2 separate regions of the Homo sapiens genome follow, and region 1 is linked to region 2. A link means that fine-mapping ties the variant in region 2 to the expression of a gene that starts in the linked region. Tissue or cell type: whole blood. Region 2 holds a variant in brackets; the other region holds the start of a gene. All regions are shown on one strand. Distances are between the middles of the regions.

What was found. PIP is the estimated chance that this variant, and not a neighbour inherited with it, causes the effect.
Region 1: OR6N1 starts here. The variant in region 2 is fine-mapped to the expression of OR6N1 in whole blood (INTERVAL, PIP above 0.99).

Annotation. Positions count from the first base shown.
Region 1 is chr1:158,767,794-158,773,806 of GRCh38, reverse strand. OR6N1 (olfactory receptor family 6 subfamily N member 1) reads left to right here and starts at 1,612. Exons shown (of 2, transcript NM_001005185.2): 1 at 1,612-1,786.
Region 2 is chr1:158,741,116-158,750,002 of GRCh38, reverse strand. It overlaps the pseudogene OR6K5P. Among named protein-coding and RNA genes, the nearest start is that of OR6K6, 9.2 kb to the left of the region's middle. The variant A/G (reference allele first, on the strand shown) is at 5,135.

The sequences.
Region 1 (6,013 bases), 25 kb before region 2:
ATAAATTATTTTGGTAGCCTTGAATTTTCTCAGGCAGGCACTTAAAGAGGTGCTAGGATAGACTATGGCCTTGAGTTCTTAGAAACTATGTTAGTGTTTGTTTAAGTCTTTTAATACATGTGGTGGGGGAGGGAAGATGGGGAGGGTGGATGAAATCATTTTTGCTGACAGTCTATAGATTTTGTAAGCCAAGGCTGAGGTTTAGTCAAAAAGAGAACTAGAGTTCAATGAAATTGAGAATCTTTGTTAGAGGAGTCAGTTGTTAAACATTTACCCCAACACATATAGAGACAGAATATCATTTGGAGGGGAGGGTAGCAGAATTGATGGATATATTTTAGGAATAGAGGATATTCTAGTTCACAGAAAAGAAGTAATTGAAATGAAACTGACAGATGTGGAAAATTTAATTTAAAAGGTAGTGGGTATTTAACTCTTAATTGCCTTATAGGGATTTAGAAAACCTGAATAAACCTCTAGTCATTAAGTAAATAAAATTATTACTTAAACTCTACGTATACTAGTCAAAAAACAAAATAATACTTTGACTCAAAAATTAAGTTATTAGTTAAATATCTATTTACCACAAACAAAATATTAAATACTGGCAACTCAGTTTGAAAAAAAAAAATCTTCCAGAAATAAATTAGGAGATAGAAAAATATAAACTTTGATGAAGAATATTGAAAGTGTGGGTGGGATGGAGAAAGTGACAAAAATTATTTAATTCTTCTCATAGTTCATATTATAGTTTGTAAGTACTTTTTTTTACATTATCACATTTGATTATTAATTTTATCTGAGGAAAGTAAATCTTCCTTATACTTTTTAAATTTTTTATCTGACAAATAATTATATATGTGATGTTTTGATACATGTATGCAGAGTAGAATGATCAAATTAGGCTAATTAACATATTTATCACCTCACATATAGTACTTATCATTTTTATTTTGTGGCAAGAGTATTCAAAATCCACCCTTCTGGCAATATTGCCAACCATGGCTCAGTGAGGTGCCTAATGTCTCATAAGTATTTGGAAGAATGGCTGGGATTGTATCCAAGATTCTGAAGCAGCACTCTTTACGGAGCAGATAACACTAGAGTAGAGAGGAGACTGCAGTGTGTAAGACAACATATAACGGCTATAAATATGAGCAACAGACAAGATTAGGAGTCGGTCTTGATGATATTTATGTCCCCAGTGTCTCCCTGTCCTCACCCTTTCAGGGTCAAAGAAGGTCAGTCAAATTTTATAAAGATCCTATCATAATTGAAAGTTGTATGCTTACTCCCAAGTCATGCAGTACAGGAACCCATTTGAACCTAGTTTTCACACCAGTTATTGTTATTTACTAAAGGAAGTAATTGCCTTGAGACATGTTCTATCTCAACTTGGACTGGTAGTTATTGTTGTAGTAACTAATAGGTAATGAAGGACTACTGGCTAATGAACTTGCTGTATGTCAGTTCCCTTCCTGAGAGAGCACTTTAGTGACCCCAGGAGGTCTGCTCAGAAGGCCCATGGGCTTCTGCCTCTATGAGGTCCCTATCAAGAATCCAGGTTTTATGGGAGAAGAATTTGTTTTATGGTTTAACTTATTCCCACAGGTTCCATCAAAGTGATAAACTTCAACCCCTCCAGGCCCCGGGAATGGCTGGGTATAATACTGCAAATGAGACATAGGAAGTATACAGGAAGTTCTCTTCAAACTTCGGACTCCGAGCAGTGGCTGGGCTTCCAGAGTCAAGCTCTAGCAGAGCACTCCCCACCAACAATCTCTAGGTAAGACTTTATCAAGCAGGCATTTTCATCTTCACATTCCTTCTTAGTCTGATCACTAAGAGACCTAGAGGATTCAGAAATATGGAGAGGTTTTTGAATAATCAGGGTCCATAAAACACATAATTGAAACACAGAAACTATTTTTAAAAACAGATATTCTGCTTTTCAAATGCTATAGTGAAGAGTCTGGCTTCAAAATTAGTAAATTGGCTATATTTTTAACTAACTGTGTAAACTGGAACAAGTCTTCTCCCCTTTCTGGATCCCAGTTTTTGTTGTTTGTTTGTTTGTTTCGTTTTTTAAATGAAGACGTTGAGTGTGATAATCTCTAAAATTGCATCTCCCTTCTTACCCCCAGATCTTTGGCCCTATGCCTAAACAATTATGAACTATGAATAATGCAGCTGTGGTATCTGAAGAAAAGAATGCAAGGCATATATTCTAAAAGCTTTCTAGAATTAGGGGAATAAACTATGATTTCAATGGACCTAAGTAAGATAAATGTAAATTTGTATATGTGGTAGGTTTTATGAGAGCCCTGATTCCAATATCAGGAATAGGAGTAGATGAGTAACTGATGAGCTAAAGAGCTGCACAAGTCATCTCAATTGCCCTCTTTTTCATTACCCACCATAACTCGGATATATCAGGCATTGTGCTAAGTACTCTAGGAGGTAGGACATGGTATGAAGTTTCCTCATTAATTTCAAAAAGCTCACAGAGAGTTGCCTTGGAGTGATAAGACATATGCCTGGAAAATAATTGCAGTGCATTACAGGATATAATTGGAGGGACAGTGAGAAAGTACTACTGAGAATTTAGAAGTGTGAAAGAACAGTATTTAACTTAGATGGTCAGGGAAAAAAATGACAGACTTGAGCTAGAAAATGATTCAAGTGTCTTCAGATTGACAAAAGATAAAGCATATTTTTAGTGAGGGTACACTGCAAACAAAGGAGTCTGGGCTAAATACAGAAACCCACTTGGCAAACATTGAAATTGCTATAATGGTGATGAAAAGAATGTTTGAACACATGACTCTGGACCAGAGCAATAGGGTTGTTTCACAGAGCAAAACAAAGAATAATGGTGAAAGCCAGGTTTCTGGTCATTGGAAAGGACAGTTGTAAACTAAAACATTTCAAAAATGGAGAGAACTGTCTTATGGGTCAGGAAGCTTCCAGTGCTGTAAATCCAGGCAGAGGGTTGATGCCCATTTGTGGCGATATGGATTCCTTTATGAGTGAGAAGATATGAGTTTTTGCTGGGCTGAATCAAAATTAGAAACATAAGTACAAATATGAAGTTTGATACACATGATTTATCCTTCTATTTTAGCCTTCCTTTTTGTGATATTTAAAGGTTTTTTCTTTTTATGAGCTGTTGGAAATATATAATACATTTCAGATATTCCAACAATCCAGTGAAATCCAAAATTATGGGGGCCACTGGAAAGTGATAGTTCCTAAAGCTTCTCTCAACACTAAATTAAGGTTTATCAGTACTAGCAGTTACAATCATAATTAGAAATAATAAAATAAATTTTTTAAAAAGGGAAAATCATCAGTATTTTTTGCCATCTTAAAGGGGGTGTGAAAAAGAGAAGGAAATGGTCCAAACCTCTGAGAACTGTGAACTTGGAAGATGAGGGAGTTGGGGGTGCTAGTTTTCCGTGGAAAATAATAATACTTGATCGGATCCTGATGACTTTGATTGCTTAGGCAGAGTATGGAGGGAGTGAACAACAGCAGGTCATTAATGAGTGATGATACAATGTATAGTGTGATAATAAGTCTTTGGAGTTATGTGGAAACTCTACCTTCTGAGAAAGGAGACGACAAAATACTGGCTTCTCATATTCAATCTTCTGACCAGCCATCCATGTAGATCTGAAAATTTAGTTAAGGGCTCACAGTCTAGACAACTCATCTGTGAGTGGGACTGGAGGCCAGAAAAGGAAAGAGGCAGCTCTAGAATAGAACCTTTTATTTATATTTAGAAGGGAAGGAATATAGAACATCTAGAAAACAAGGGTCTGAGAAGAAGTAGAAATTTAGGGATAATCCTTTATAGAAGGCAGGTATGCATTCAAGACTTGAAGAAAACAGAAGGCAGAATTGGGCAGTGGATAGACATGGATATGCGGTGAGAAAAACTAAGACAAAGAAATTTTGGATAATAAAGTAATTATTCTGAAGCAAAATCACCCATATAAAAGTTTGGCCCGGAAGTAGTTCTCTGGAATCTAAGTAGAGAAACATCCTATATTAAGTCTTGGATTGAGAAAGGCTTTTGTATATGGGATGGACATGCTCCCTAGGTTTAGAAAAATGCCAAGAAAAATCAGAGTAAACAAAGTTAGTTTGGATGAATTTCAGGATCCTGGAGAGGGAAGAAGTGATAAGAAGACCGGAGGGCAGAAGGAGAAGACTCGGTGTCTTTCATAACTCTCTGCCTTTGCACAGGCAGTTCCATTTGCTTCAAATACTTTTTATTTCATTTTTCCATCTAAAAAATTCTGACAGTTTCTTCACTTCAAATAAAAATTATATCTTCTGGCAAAGCATGGTGACTTATGCCTGTAATCCCAGCACTTTTAGAGGCCAAAGCAGGTGGATCACTTGAGCCCAGGAGTTCAAGACCAGCCTGGGCAATATGGCTAAACCCCATCTCTACCAAAAACACAAAAATTAGCCAGGCGTGGTGGTGCACGTTTGTAGTCCCAGCTACTTGTGGGGTGGAGGTGGGAGGATTGCTTGAGCCCAGGAGGTCAAGGCTACAGTGAGCAGAGATCCTGCCACTGCACTCCAGGCTGGGTGATAGAGTGAGATGCTGTCTCCAATAATAATAATAATAATAAATTATGTGTTCTATGAAATTTTCCTGATTTATCTCCATATCCAGCCCATGGCTTGTAACTCCTACTGCATATGCAAATTAGCAGTTATCTTAATAGATTTGCATATTAATTACATAAATATTTATTGAGTTGTAACTATATTTCAGACATGGCTCTAGGCACTTGACATACACCAGTAAACAAAATAGAAAAGAAAAAAATCTTTGCCCTTAAGGAACTTATAATCAAAGAGGAGAGAACCAATAAACAATAGGAATAAGAAATAAGTACATTTTACAGGTTAGAACATGACAAGTCCTCTGGAAAAAAAGTTAAAAATTAAGTAGAGAAAGGCAATAGCAGTACAGAATATGGATGTAAGGATGGAGGCACACTGCAGTTATATAGGGTGGCCCAGGTAGTTGAGCTGGTGAAATTTGAGCAAAGATGAAATAAATGAAAGAGCTATCCAAATGGTGAAAGAGATTCTAGAACAAGGAAAGAGCTACAGCAAAGGTTTTAAATGATATGTCACTGAACACATTTGATCGATGGAAACGCAGAACCTAATTTAGAATTTAACAGGATCACTCTGGTGTGTTGAGATGAGGCTACAAGTGAACAAATGCAAGTAGGGAGATCTGTTAGGAGTCAATTACAGTAAGAGGGGAGAGATAAAAGTGACTTGGACCGAGGTGGTCAAACATAGTCAGTTCCTGGATATATGAGAGAAAGATAGAAACAAGGATGACTGCAGGAGTTTAGCTTGTCAGTTGAAAGATTGCAATTGCCATCATTTGTGATGGGGAAGACTAGGGGTAGAGACCCCAGGAGTTCAGTTTGAGATGGCTCTTCGACTCCCAAGAGGAGATGTGAGTAGGCAGTGAAATATATGAGTCTGGAGTAGCAGAGAAAAATATCGCCTGAGATATGGATTTAGATGTCTTCAACACATTTATAGTGTTTAAAGCTCTGGTATTGGATGGTATAGAGCAGAGGAGTTGAGTTTATATAGAAGAGAAAAAAAAAAGATTAAACACTGACCATGGGCACTGTGACATTAAAAGGATGGGGCATGGAGGAGAAACTAAAGTTGGAGAATGAGAAGGAATGACTAATAAGATAGAAAGTAACCAAAAGTATAGTACCCCGAGAATCAAGTCAAGGAAGTGTGTGAACAGGCTGGATAAATCAATACTGTCAAGAAACAGATAGTCCAAGTAAGCTGAGGAATGAGAAATGACCATTGGATCCAGGAAATCTTAGATAATTAATGTCTATGAGAAAGGAGGTTTTAATGGAGTGGTGGTAGTATAAATCTAATTAGAGTGGGTTTAAGAAGAAACTTAAAGAGAGGCATTAAAGGCAATGCGTATAGCCGACTCTTG
Region 2 (8,887 bases):
CATTAAAAATTATATACATAGGTATGTATATATACCTATATAAAGAGATATATATTTAAAAATGGGTGTCCATCATAAAAAGTAAAACTTTGAAAATAAGAAAAAGAAACACACAGCATTAAGACCATAAAGAAGAAAGAATGAAATTAGTTAAAGATGATATAAAATTTCCAAATGAAAATAAAGACAAATTATAACACAAAGTTCAGCAAGTGCATAGATACAAATGGATATATTTAACATTGCATTATTATATGTAACAGTTGACAAAAAGTGTAATAAAAAGATGCCATTTGAAGTATCAACAAAAATAAAAAACTGTAAAAGATATGTTACATCTAAACATAGCACTTTATAAAACTGTATTGGACTATATCAAAAACATAAATAAATTGATCCATATGCTGTATGAATGAATAGAATGTCTCAGTTACATAAACATGCCAATCATCTACAAGTCAATCATTTCAACCCAATTTCAATCAAAATCTCATTTTGAGTAGAGAGGAGTGGGATATGTAAGAATGAGGGCCAAGAAGAAGACATTTCAAAGGAGGAGATTAAAATGGTGCCACTTGTCTATTTAGTAAAAGTTATTATGAAGCAATATTTGTAATAAAATAGCAGTGGGAGTAAACAGCCAATGGAAGCAAAGAAATAGACTAATATAGTATGGGATTTTAACATACGTGAGAGTAGGTATAGCAGACCACTGGGGAAAAGATGAACATAGCCAGCACAACAGGTCTGTGGAAAAAGGTGCATTGTTTAATCAATTGTATTGGAACTTTAGTTAAAATTTTTCAATTCCATATAAATATAAACCATAAATTTAAAGACTGATGAATAAAACTATTTAATAGTTCGTTTCATCAAATAGCATCATTAAAAAGAAAAACAACAAGATATACACTAGGAGTCTGTATTTGTAATAACGTTTATAACTGATTATTTTTATTTAGAATATACAAAAAGCTTCTACAAAGTAATAAGAAAAAGATAAACAACCAAATGAGGAGTACACACACACACACACACACACTCACACATACACACATACAACATTCAACTGCAAATCAAAGCAATAGCATATTGTTTACACAACAACTGAGTAGCAAAAATATGACCACCCAGAACATTAGAAAAGATGTGCAACAATAAAAATGCATTTATTGTTGGTGGTAGACAGATTCTGAAAAACAATTTGGCAGCATCTAGTGAAGTTGAAGATGCAAATATTCCAGAATACAAAACGTTGAAGGCTAATGAATGATTAAATTGTGCTCCATTTATACAAGACAGCAGGGATTTTCTTTTAAAGTTGCAGCTAGATACATTGATGTGAATGATTCTCAAAACATATGTTGAGTGAATAAGCAAATTATAAAGTAATGCCTAAAATACCATTCTATTTACATAGAGTAAAACAGAACTAAACAGTATATTGTTTTTGAGTGTGCACACATGTGCTAAATAGAATAATAAACACAAAATTCAGGTGAATGGTAATATGTAATATGGCAATAAAGAACTGGATTGGGGAGGAAAGTGTAGTGGTCTTCAAAGTTATTCATAATATTCTATCTCTTAAGTGGGGTTGTAGGTTCATGTGAACAAGAAGTGAAAAGGTGGAGACAGAAATACTGATAAAAGAGTAAACTATGCTTTTAGGAAAATAAGATCGGGAAGAAGAAAGGCAGTATGGCAGACTTAGAGCAACAATGAAAATGAGAAAGAGTATATACTTTAATATGTTTGAGCATATTCATAAGCTATATAAGCAGACTAAAAAGAGGAAAATTTGGAGGATACATAGGTAAGTGAGACAACTGAAGGAACAGTGTCTCTGCATGAGATGAGATAAATAGGTTCAAAGCGTAAGAGGAGGAATTTATCTTAAGTGGTAAGACTGGATAAAATCAGGGTCAAAAAGTAAACATCAGTGTGGCTACAAATTAGACTATCTTTGAGTCACTATCTGATTCTTTAGCTATTCGCCGATTCATTTAATTATTCGTTTATTTAGCTACATATTCCTTAATCGAATGCTTATTGAGGGACTGTCTTTATTTATTGTTATTGTTTTTTATTTTTATTTTTTAGAGACAGAATCTCACTCTATTGCTCCGGTTGAAGTGCAGTGGCTGCTTACAGGGGCGATCACGGTGCACTGCAGCCTCGAAGTCATGGCCTCAATCAGTCCCCCTGCCTCCACTCAAGGATCTGCCTTAAAAATCGCCTATTAAAAATCTAATCATTCAGAGTCGAAAGTCACCTCTGCTCTGACTCATTTTTCGCACCATATATGCCTGTGTCTCATAAGTTTTTTTTTTCTAATTTCAAATATGCTTTCAAATTCTGTTGCATTTCTATATCCACTGCTACTGTTCCACTAAACATTTAACACTTCGTGATTGTTTTATATCTCTTTTTGTGATAGAAGAAAAAAATCTTATGTGTTGTATATGTCTATTTCTTCTGCCTTTACCCACCTGGAGGTTAATATTAAGTCCAATTTCAGTTTTTAAAAAGTAGGAAAAAAAGAATTAGAAAAGTATCCTTCTGCTTCTATTTCCTGTCCTCTATATGAGGGCCCTTTTTTTTTTTTTCCTCAGGTCTGTCCAAGGTCTAGCTCATGTGTGCTCATCAATACAGCTTTCATGTAGCAGGAAAGGTTGCCCTTCAATCCTTTCCTGACTCCATACACTTGGGATATCTGCTGCTGGAACCCCTGAAACCCATGAAATCTCATGAGAGCCCCCTCATTACTGCCACTACTGCAAATGGCCCTGTGATCCCTGGATCCTTCTGAAGAAATTCTACTAAGCTGTGCTGGATGGCAGCTGGCTGAATCTTCTGCAATACACTTCAGGGTTGTGCTGTGTGATCACTAAACTGCTCCAAAGAGTAGAGAAAATTCTCCTGCCTTTGAACCACATTGCGTTAGTTTCATTCCTTTTGTTCCTTATCCTTTCCCTTTCTCAGCAGATTTTGTAATTTAAACTATTCTTTTACCCCTTGGACAGAATGGAAAGCCAAGTACTCTTTTCATCTGATTTCTAGCCTGACTGAAAAACCTAGCTTCCCATAGGTGTGTTGACCTCATGAAAGGGGAGTGTGTCAGCAAGTGTTTTCCTAATTAGTCTCATGGGGCATAGAGTTGCTTTTCCCTAAGCCCCCCAGGAAAGAGCCCTTTAGAAGAAAGCCTTTCTCCCACTTAGCAATTCCCTGTGATGCTTAGAGGTGTGGCTGTGGTTACAACCTTCCTACTTATTGGGCTGCAGAGCAATGAAGATGGAGACATTTGGAAAAGAGGAGGTGGCTCTGTTGGTTTCTGGAAGAGGTAGCTATGGACTGATGGGTGGACTTTCTACTTTGAGATATGAGTGAATGACTTTGTTTACTAGATATTGGGGGACAATTTTCACAGAACCATATTATTTCCTATTGGACTTTAAAGAAGGACTTGTGGAAATTTTGTTGAGATTGTGACAACACATGAGGTAGAGGAAAGGACCATAACTTAGGGATGGAGGGCTTTGGTGAGTGTTTGTCCTACAATTAGAGATTGCCGTAAGATAACAAACACCTGGACTAAATCTGTCAAATTGTGTCTGGCCCACTAGCTCTATGACTCTTTCACAACTCTACTATTTTCTGAGCTAAATTCTAATCTAGGTTTGTATTGTATTTAGTGGCATCAGGACAGGCTCTTAAGAATAAAGGAATGTCAGGACAACTAGTGGAGCTTCTGGTTGAGATTCTGGGGTATCCATTCCTACAGAAAATAGGAGAGTCCTATTAGGTATAACTTTGCTCCCAAGACTCTATATCAAATTGCCTTCCTATAGGCATCCTCTTTCCTTCTTAAAGACTCAAGTTCCTAAAGACCTACCTTTTTAACAAAAATTTCCAGATTTCAATTTTCTAATTCCAAACGGTACTGGACATAGAGCTTAATGCTTCTTTCCCTGTTTGTCTCCCTACTGCCTCTGTAAGCAGAACACAGAACAATTACACGGGTATCATTTTCTATCATACTAGGAAAGCCTGTTGGGGATAATACAGTCATAAGATATTGGGATGACAAAATAATTTTACAATCTCATATACAGCCATATTATCTGTTCTGCTTAAAGGCTCAGGTTTGATTTGGAACCCTACAGAGAGCCAGTATAAGGTTTTCAGACAGAGGATTGACAGCTTTGCATTTAGGAAAGATTATTTCAGTAGCTATGTGAAAGTGAGATGTAGTAAGACAAGTCTGGAAACAATAAGCCCAGATAAGAGTAATTAAGGTAAAAATTGCTAGAGTATAAATTATTTTTTATGAGCCTCCATTTCTTATGTAAAAGTTTTCTTAAAGAAAAACAAGGGAATTTTCACCTCATATTTTCCTGTTTCAACATAGACTTACTATTTTGCTGTATGTATAAAAAGCAAGAGAAAAAAAATTGTGGTTGCCATATGCCAAGCTGGGTTCTTACTTGTGTATAGCCTCCGGCATTACGGTTTCCAAATAATTTTATCTATTTATTGTATCCATTGGCAGTTCAGAGTTGTCTGACTTTTTTGGTAGATATCAGTAGCTTTCTCCATTTAGAGGTCCCATCTTCACCTCAGTACCAAGTGAAGAGTCAGAATTCTGCCATGCAAACAAACGTTTATTAGCAAACAGGCAAAAACATACTACTATTAGGCCTTTTCTTGGAAGCTCATGGAAGTCTCAACTCTTTTTCCTTATGCTTTCTGGTTAGTATAATAAATGAAGGTTTCTATCAAAGATAAAATGTAATAAAATTCTCTGCAGTAGAAAAGCTAACTTTCTAGTGAGATTAGGTGATAAATACCCTTTTAAGGAGGGAACACAGGAATGAATGGATCATGTGCCTATTGCACCTCTCCAAGCTCTATAGGCTGCCTAGCTCATCCTGTTTTATATCCCTGCAAGCCAGAGGTTAGGAATACTTTCAGCCAATCAACGTATCTTGATCACCTGGTTTTTCATTAAAAAAAATTTCTGTATGCCAGTGGTTCTTAACTGGCACAAATTTTCTTCTACTTCTTCCCTGCAGGGACATTTGGTGATTTCTAGGATGATTTTGGTAGTCATGACGAGGGAGGGGTCTATGCT[A/G]CTGACACCTTATAGGTGAGACCAGGGGTGGCTGCTAGACATTCTATAATGCACGAACAGCCTTGCCTTCTCTCTGAGCAATGAATTGTCTGTTTCAAAATGTCAATAATGCTGAAATTGACAAAACCTGCTTTACATTATTTAATAAACTCTACAGTGTGGATACAGATAAGAATATTTGAAGCCCTTGTCAAAACTGCCTCTTGAGGTAGACTATTGATTAAAGTATTTCAAATGTTGCAAATTACACCTAGAATGTAATTTCTAGATTAGCTCACTTCAACTATTAACTAACTCCCTGTGATAGTTAATACTGAGTGTCAACTTGATTGGATTGAAGGATGCAAAGTATTGATCCTGGGTGTGTCTGTGAGGATGTTGCCAAAGGAGATTAACTTTTGAGTCAGCGTGCTGGGAAAGGCAGACTCACCCTTAATCTGGGTGGGCACCATCTAATCAGCTGCCAACGTGGCTAGAATATAAAGTAGGCAGAAAAACATGAGAAGACTAGACTAACCTGGGCTCCTAGCCTACATCTTTCTCCTTTGCTGGACCCTTCCTGCCCTCAAACATCAGACTCCAAGTTCTTCAGTTTTGGGACTCGAACTGGCTTTGCTTGCTCCTCAGCTTGCAGACAGCCTATTGTGGGACCTTGTAATAGTGTGAGTTAATATTTAATAAGCTTCCCTTTAACTATATATATATCTCCTATTAGTTCCGTCCCTCTAGAGAACCCTAATACACCCCCTTTAGAGTGTAGATTAGATTAATTTGTATACCCATATATGTCACATGAGATTAGCCTCTTGTGTCTTAAAGTAAATAATATTTGGTGGAATGTTTGGATTTTTTCTTTTCATTCAATTGTTAATAATGAGTCAGACTAAGGGAAGCTGCTAATCATACTTTAGTTTCAAACATGCGCACTTAAAAATGAGTTTATTCTTATCCACAGAGGGTATCATTTTGTCATGACCCATTCTTCTGTGTCCCCAACACTTCATCTCAAAAAAATGAAAATGTCTACTTACTTAAATTGTTCCTAATTTACTGTTATAATAAATGTTCTAGCTAATATTGTCATATATTTCTTTTTTAATATCTGAAATATTTCCCCTAGACTACATAGTGAAAGGCTTAAACTCTAAACAGTCTTAAACTCTCAATATAAATTGCCAAATTGCCATTCAGGGGAGTTTGTACCAATTTATATGTCTAACTAGCAATACTGTTAGCTTATCCAACAGAATAATTGACAACATAAGTTATTATAATTACTAAATTTGACAGGATAACTTTATATGTTGCAAAATGACTCACATAGTATATTTTATTTAACCAGCCTAATTTCAAGGCTGTTTAGTTGCTTGAAAAGAAGGTTTTTATTTGTTCTTTGCATGTACTTAGAATGTTGACTGTGTTTTATGAGCCAACAAGTGAAACCGCTGAAAATATGGATCCAGAGAATCAGACAATGGTGACTGAGTTTTATTTCTCTGATTTTCCTCAATCTAAGAATGGCAGCCTCTTATTCTTCATTCCTATGCTCTTTATTTATATATTCATTCTTGTTGGAAATTTCATGATTTTCTTTGCTGTCCAACCGGACCCCCATCTCCATAATCCTATGTACAGTTTTATCAGTGTCTTCTCCTTCCTGGAGATTTGGTACACCACCGTGACTATCCCCAAGATGCTCTCCAACCTTCTCAGTGAACAGAAAACCATCTCTTTCATAGGTTGCCTCCTGCAGATGTACTTCTTCCACTCACTCGGGGTCACAGAAGCCCTAGTCCTCACAGTGATGGCCATTGACAGGTGTGTAGCCATCTGCAACCCCCTTCGCTATGCAATCACTATGTCCCCTTGACTGTGCATCCAGCTCTCCACTGGCTCTTGCATTTTTGGCTTCCTCATGTTACTGCCAGAGATTGTGTGCATTTCCACTCTTCCATTCTGTGGCGCCAACCAAATTCATCAACTCTTTTGTGACTTTGAACCTGTGCTGCAGTTGGCCTGCACAGATACGTAAATAATTCTGGTTGAAGATGTGATCCGTGCTATTTCCATTCTGACCTCTGTCTCTGTCATCACCCTTTTCTATTTAAGAATCATCACGGTGATCCTGAGGATTCCCTCTGGTGAGAGCCGTCAGAAGGCTTTCTCCACATGTGCAGCCCACATTGCTATTTTCTTGCTGTTTTTTGGCAGTGTGTCACTCATGTATCTGCGCTTCTCTGTCACATTCCCACCATTACTGGACAAGGCCATTGCACTGATGTTTGCTGTCCTTGCCCTACTTTTCCTTTTTTTTTTTTTTTTTTTTTTTTTGAGACGGAGTCTCGCTCTGTCGCCCAGGCTGGAGTGCAGTGGCGGGATCTCGGCTCACTGCAAGCTCCGCCTCCCGGGTTCACGCCATTCTCCTGCCTCAGCCTCCCAAGTAGCTGGGACTACAGGCGCGCGCCACTACGCCCGGCTAATTTTTTGTATTTTTAGTAGAGACGGGGTTTCACCGTTTTAGCCGGGATGGTCTCGATCTCCTGACCTCGTGATCCGCCCGCCTCGGCCTCCCAAAGTGCTGGGATTACAGGCGTGAGCCACCGCGCCCGGCCCTTGCCCTACTTTTCAACCCAGTAATCTATAGTCTGAGGAACAAAGATATGAAAAACGCCACCAAGAAAATCCTCTGTTCTCAAAAGATGTTCAATGCCTCTGGGAGCTAATGGAGTTCACACACACCTCTTCAAAGAAATCTCATCATCTCCTTAAGTTTAAAATGCTAACAAATCAGTTTTTTAAAATTACCACGCACTTTTTCTTTTTTTAACGAAATTATTTAAAGACATTTTGGCATGTATTTTCAAAGTGAAGTATCTCTTTAATGATTTTTAATATGAATAACAACAGTACTAAGTTTTGTGTCTATCATTTTAATTTATAGGTCTTGTTTTTCTAAGACTATAAGTATGATTTATAAATGTTATTACTTTTGCTTGAAAAGTAAGTTAAGCTGTAAAAACAAAAACAAAATAAGTACGTTAAGTTTTAAAGATATTTAAATGATTGTAAAACCTTCTTATACATGTGTCTACATTGTTCTCTTTTCCTGCACTCCACATTTCTTTGTGAAAATCTGTATTCATCTGGTGTCATTTTCCTTCCACCTGAGAAGCTTCCTTCAACTTTTCTCACACTGTGGGTCTGTGGATGATTAATCGTTTTTGTTTTTGTAAGTTTCAACAACGCTTTGTAAATCTGAGCAAGTATTTTATTTTGTCCTCATTTTATAAGATGTTTTTTTCTGGATATAGAAGTCCAAAATATAAGATTTTTTTTTCTTTTTTTCCATGAGTTAAAGATGTTGTTCTGCTTTGTTCTCACTTGCATTGTTTTTGATGAGTAATCTGCTGACATCCTTGCTTGTGTTTCACAATATGTTATGAATGTCTTTTATCATCCCTTTTATTTTTTAGTTCTCATTTATAAGTGGGAGCTAAACATAGAGGTTACATGGACATAAATATGGAAACAATAGACACTATGGACTATCAGAGGTTGTGAAGGGGTGGGTAAAACAACTACCTATCAGGTAATATGCTCACTACCTGAGTGACGAGATCCGTACTCCAAACCTCAGCTTCACGCAAAATCCCCGTGTAACAAATCTGCACATAAACCCACCGTACGTGTTTTGATTTATGCTGTTGATTTGCTATACTTTCTAATTTTCTAATGTAAGGACTAATGTTTGAT